Regions from separate parts of the Homo sapiens genome. Here region 1 is linked to region 2. Evidence: fine-mapped expression QTL. A gene starts in region 2. The other region holds a variant in brackets. All regions are shown on one strand. Distances are between the middles of the regions.

The links.
Region 1: its variant is fine-mapped to the expression of ZNF830 in whole blood (TOPMed, PIP above 0.99).

Annotation. Positions count from the first base shown.
Region 1 is chr17:34,989,673-34,992,583 of GRCh38, reverse strand. LIG3 (DNA ligase 3) reads right to left here. Exons shown (of 20, transcript NM_013975.4): 5 at 1,470-1,621; 6 at 747-913; 7 at 549-626; 8 at 1-60. Among named protein-coding and RNA genes, the nearest start is that of LIG3, 11 kb to the right of the region's middle. The variant A/C (reference allele first, on the strand shown) is at 1,291.
Region 2 is chr17:34,960,310-34,963,220 of GRCh38, reverse strand. ZNF830 (zinc finger protein 830) reads right to left here and starts at 1,681. Exons shown (of 1, transcript NM_052857.4): 1 at 1-1,681. The coding sequence starts at 1,654. The coding sequence ends at 536. CCT6B (chaperonin containing TCP1 subunit 6B) reads left to right here and starts at 1,761. Exons shown (of 14, transcript NM_006584.4): 1 at 1,761-1,964. The coding sequence starts at 1,828. RefSeq lists enhancers at 1,388-1,637, 1,718-1,797, 1,848-2,067, 2,168-2,217 and a silencer at 1,937-2,231.

The sequences.
Region 1 (2,911 bases), 29 kb before region 2:
TCCTGCAGGTTGCGCGAGGCTTTGAAGGCTTCATAGGCATTGGGGTCAAGGGCGTCTAACCTGCCAAGGGGTACAGGAACAAGGAAACAAAACCACTGCCTTTGTTTGACTCCATGGCTTTGGACAGCAATCTGTCCTCACAGAAGAAATCCTCATCTGTAGGGAAGGGGTTGTGTTCTATTGTCTAAAGACTTTCACAAGAGGAGAGAAAGCTCTTGGAAAATTCAGCTCTTTTGAGATACTGTGCCTATGTGGATGCCGCCTTAGCGAGGAGGGGGCTGGAGTAGGCAAGAGACTCATACTATACTCACTGAACGTATGCCACACTTCAACTGTAAGAACTCTGTGAGAAAGGTACTGTTATCTCCATTTTATATGGGAAAAAATGGAGGCAGAGACAGGTCAAGTGACAGATCAGGGTCTCACAGAAAGTAAGAAGGTGGAAGGGGGATTCAAATCCTGACTGGGACTCAAAAGTCCTGACACCAGTTGGGAACAAACAAAGCTAACAAATGACAGCTCAGGCTGTCAGCGGAGCTGCTACTTACACATGTTTTGCACCTGAGTTCATCTTCAGATCATGTTTGATCAACCTGATGATGCATTTAAGGTCATTGGCTGTACACCTAGGGGGATGAAGCACATTTAACTTGGTCTTGAAGAGCTCTGGAACCCCAAGGGAACCTTCCCTTCCCAAGAGAGTTCATCTCTCTATGGGCATGGTTTGACGGAGGCAGCTCCCCCACCTGGAGGCAATGTCCTGTAGGGCCTGTTGCTGCTCATCCTCCTTGGTGAGCTTGGACAGCCGCAGAAGGAACTCATCCACTTCCTGGATGGTAAGGAGGCTCTTGGCAGCTGGGGGGAAAGACTTGCTCTGCTCAAAGAAGACTCTGATTGTCTCTGACACGTCACCCTGTCTCCAAAAACCAAAATGCCACTGCTGCAACCCTAGGGTGGCCAAGTGTATCCCCCAAGACCCAGGACTGAAGATGAATCAAGAAATTTCAATCATAGCTCCTATCCCAACTCAACATATCTAGCCCACTTCTTAGAGACACTAGCCCATCCACAATTCCTAGAAGGGGATGGAAACTTGCCATGGTACCAGGGATAGAGTCACGGACAAACCAAAGCTTGGTAAAGCCAAGTTATAGGAGAAAACAAGCAAGAAAAAAAGAGTCCAGAATAAAAGCCCCAGGAGAGACAGAGGGGGCAAGTCTCAAATTCTGCCTTTTGAGAACCAGGCCTTTGTGGTTCAGCAGTTGTATGGTTTCCACCCTCAGAAACTTA[A/C]GAAATTAAGAGCTATAGCCTCACATTCAGCTCCCCCTATAACGGAAGCTTGCTCAAATGGGTTTCAGTTTCCTAAAACAGTATGTGTCCCAACCAGAAAAAAAAAAAGAGGCTGCAGGTGCCTGGCTTGGCAAAACCCCACCTGGAATGTAGCCTACCCTCCCTCCCGTTCCTCTGACCTGCTCTAGGTCCCGTGCCATATCATCTGGGTTGCAGTTAAAAATGCGACTGAAAAGCTTCACAATCTGCTTATCGTTCAAGTTGTAAACAGTCTTAATGACTCCTGGCAGCAGCAGCTTCACTGTTAGGTACACATCACCGTGGAAACCATCTGGAGACAGAAGGAACCCTTCTTGAGAAATAGAGCTTAAACAAATAAATATATAAACTCAAAGAAGGCTGGGCAAGGTGGCTCACACCTGTAATCTCAGCACTTTGGGAGGCCGAAGCAGGAGAATTGCTTAAGCTCACAAGTTTGAGACCACCCTGGCAACAAAGAAAGACCCCATCTCTACAAAAAATTAAAAAATTAGCTGGACATGGTGGCATATGCCTATGGTTCCAGCTACTTGCAGGAGAAGACAGGAGGGTTGCTTTAGCTCAGGAGGTCGAGGCTATAGTGAGCTGTGATCACACCACTGTACTCCAGCCTGGGCGACAGAGCAAGACACTGTCTCACACACACACACAAAAATAAATAAAAAAATAAACTCAGACCGCGCATGGTGGCTCACGCCTGTGATCCCAGCACTTTAGCAGGTTGAGGTAGGCAGATTAATTGAATCCAGGAGTTTGAGACCAACCTGGGCAAAACAGCAAAACCCCGTCTCTACAAAAAATACAAAAATTAGCCAGGCATAGCGGCACATGCCTATAGTCCCAGCTACTTGGGAGGCTGAGGCAGAAGGACTGCTTGAGCCCAGGAGGCGGAGGTTGCAGTGAGCTGAGATTGCACCCATGCGCTCCAGCCTGGGCAACACAGCCACATTTTTTGTCTCAATAAATAAACAAACAAACAAACTCAAAGAAGCAGAGACCAAAAGATATCTATATATCGCTGCCCATGCTCCTATAGTACCCTGTGCATATCGCTATAGTAGGAGACAGCATGGAGTTCAGAGGCTGGTGGATTGTGTCTGCCTCACCTTTAGCCTACAGATGAACTCTTGTTGGACAGAGTGGTTAGTTTCACTTCACGTGCCCAGTGACAAGGACATCAGAGATGCTCATCGACAATTTGTTAGATAAATGAAAGAAACAGAGTTGGAAGATTCTATTCCAAACTGTGTATATGGTTCACAAAAACCTAATTAAATATGTAGGACAGTAAATTTTCTAACTAGTCAAATAGGATGGGTTCTTCTGGCCTCCTAGGAGCAGAATAAGGGGAGAGGAAGACAGATGCCAAAGTGCTCTGAGAAAAACTGGCTACATAATTTGTGGAGTACAGTGCAAAATGCAAATGCGAGGCCCCTTGTTCAAAATTATTAAGAATTTCCAGATAGCACTACAGTACAGCATTAAACCAAGCATGGGATCCCGGGCAACTATACAGCTCACATGCCCAGGAAGGCAGCCATGGCCTTGAGCTCTCCGGAGGAAAGGCCTATTCAGGATGCTC
Region 2 (2,911 bases):
ATGTTTTTAAAATAAAGCACACTAAGAGAACTGATTAACCTACAATGACTTATGTGTTTATGAAGTGTTCTAAAAAACCATACAAAAACCAAAGAAACAAGAAAACAAACCTTTTCAACTTGATGTAGGGTTCAGAAGATACATACATTCCAAATACCACAGTAAGCATTCATCTGAAAGTTTGCCGGTTGGTCTTTCTATTAATTAAAAAAATTCAAAACAGAATACAGATTTAACTATGTACAATATTTACAACTTACAGATTTTACAACGAAATTATACAGTTAAGTCTGTCGTGGAAATGTTGGCATTTTGGTATATAACACTTCAGAAATTTCAAAAACAACTTTACCTCAAAAACATGTTACACAAATTTTCCAAAGTGCTGTAGCTCACTGGCTCATTTTATCTCAACAATCCAGTTTAGCAATCCAGGTACCCAAATCTTGAGGCATGAAGTAACCGCTATACTACTGAGAGACAGCACTTTTTATACAACAGCAGAGGCTGTTAGAAACCTTGGGTCTTTAAAACCCTATAACAATGCCCCTTTCACCCTCCAATCCTGAGACAACAAATCCTGTAGTTCCCCCTCATCATCGCTGTCAGCATTCTCTTCTTCCTTTTTCTGCAGTTCTTTTATGGTCAGGATTTCTTTAAGTTTATTTTTTATTTCATCCTGGCGATTCCGTAGCTTTTCCACCCGTCGGTAACACTCTATCTGCTCATCGATCTCCCCAATCTGGCGGTCCAACCGTCCCTCCTCATCCTCTTCGGCAACTATGGCTTCGGAAATAGTGTTGACCTGCCTCATGGCTTTTTGGAATTCGTCCCACTCTTTGTCCATCTGATCTTTTGGAGCATCAACCTTTCGTACTCTTGCATCTACCTCAGGGTCGTCAAAAAAACCTTCCGGTAACGCTTCCGCGGTGTTTTCTCTCCTTTCCACCACTTTTTCATGTATTTCTGCTTTCTCAATTGACCCTGAATGAGGAATTATGGGGGCCTTGGGAGGATTAGTACTAAAGAAATCGTTTGGCAGCACACTACTTGTTACCTCCCGTGAAGAGGAAACTGAGTGCTCCTTGCCCTGTGCGTCGGAGAGCGGCTTGCTGGCGTCCCCCCTTTTTCTTTCTCCATCTCCTTCCTCCTCCTCTTCCTCCTCCTCCTCATCTTCATAATCGGGGAGTAAACTGAGTCCTGAAGGCTTACTGGGAGTCGCTCTAATGAACTCCTTTCCTATTTTGTCAAAGTTGGTGGTCCACGCAGATGTGGAGGGCTGTACCTGAGGCACCAAGGTGGCCTTCGCTCTCTTGACATCTTGGTCGTCTGCGTCCGGCGCTTTCCTCTTGACGGAATGAGGCGCTGAACTGGCGGACGAACCCTGGCTGGCTTCCTTCGCGCCTTTCAGCTCGGCCACTTTCTCTCGGTGCTGCTTTCCCAGGACGTGAGTCTGCCACAGGAGCTCGCTCTTAACCGGAGTGTTACACAGGGCACAACTCAGCTGCCCCAAACGGTTGTACTTCGCGAATGGAGATTCTATCCGTTTCCGACTGGTGCTCAGACGCTGCTTCTCCTTCATTAACCGCCGCAATTCTTCCTGATTTATCACTCGCTTCCCTGCCGGAGTCCGGGCGGAGGCGGAGGACGCCATCTTGGCGACCAGACCCAAAACGATTCTGGTTTCCGTCGGGCGAGGCATGATAACGTCACTTCCTGTAAGGGCGATGATTGGCCGAGGCTCAAGAGAGCGTGGCGTCGCATTGCCGTTTTTGCTCAGAATCGCGACTAAGGCTTTTTTTTTTTCTCCCTCTGAACGGTTAGGCTATGGCTGCGATAAAGGCCGTCAACTCCAAGGCTGAGGTGGCGCGGGCCCGGGCAGCTTTGGCTGTCAATATATGCGCCGCCCGAGGGCTGCAGGATGTGCTGCGGACCAACTTGGGTCCTAAAGGCACCATGAAAATGTGAGACAGCGGTTGGAGCGGCCATTACGCGGCTAGGGGCCCGTTGGTGTCCTGTCGCCCTCTGAGGCAGGCGTCCGCGTAGCGCTGTGGATGTTCTTGCGAGCTTGATTTCCCTCATTCTCATCCCTGCTCTGGGGGTATTTCTCGCCTGGTGCAGGTGGAGGAGAAAAGCCTCCCCTAGTAGAGGGCCCCGGGAGTGAAGCTGTGGCGCTTCCCCGACCCCCGACTTGTCGTCAAGGTTCATATGCAGTTAGAAAGTCAGTTAATTTAGTGTCTCATTGGAAACAAAGCATTTAACTCCTCTGCTCCTTAAGACTGTATACCCTTGGTCCATAAATTCAACAAGTAGTTTTGTTTTTTGTATGGCAATGTATTGTAGTGGAGAGGACACAGGCTTTGGAGCCAGGAAGGCATGGGGTCAAATCCAAGTTCTACTTGAATACCCCGTGTCTATGGTTGTTCAGATCTATTCATCTTTTCAGTATATATTAAGCACCCTTTTCTATAGACAAGAGTGAGGAAAAGAGACCAGTGAGGGCAAAAGGGTATAAGAGGAGAGACACATCCTCATAGTAATGAACAAAATAATATTAATGGTAAAATAAGTCACTTAGGTACCAGTTGTTGGGACACAGAAATGATCAAGATAACGGTTTCTGTTCTTAAGGAGATGTGGTAGAGACGGATGTGGTAGAGTAGGATGTGCTAATTATATATAGATGCATATAATTATGCTGAAGAAAGGGACTGATGGCAGAAGGAAAAGCATCTTAAGTAACATGTTTGATCAGTCTTGAAAGAAGAATAAGACTTCACTAGTTGGAAGAGGGAGTAAAGGCCTGGGCAAAGTAATTTCAGGAATAAGAAAGACCAATGGTGCAAATCCAACAGAAACGAAACAAAACATGGTATATTAAGGGAACCAGAAGATTTGCTTGTGGAAAAGT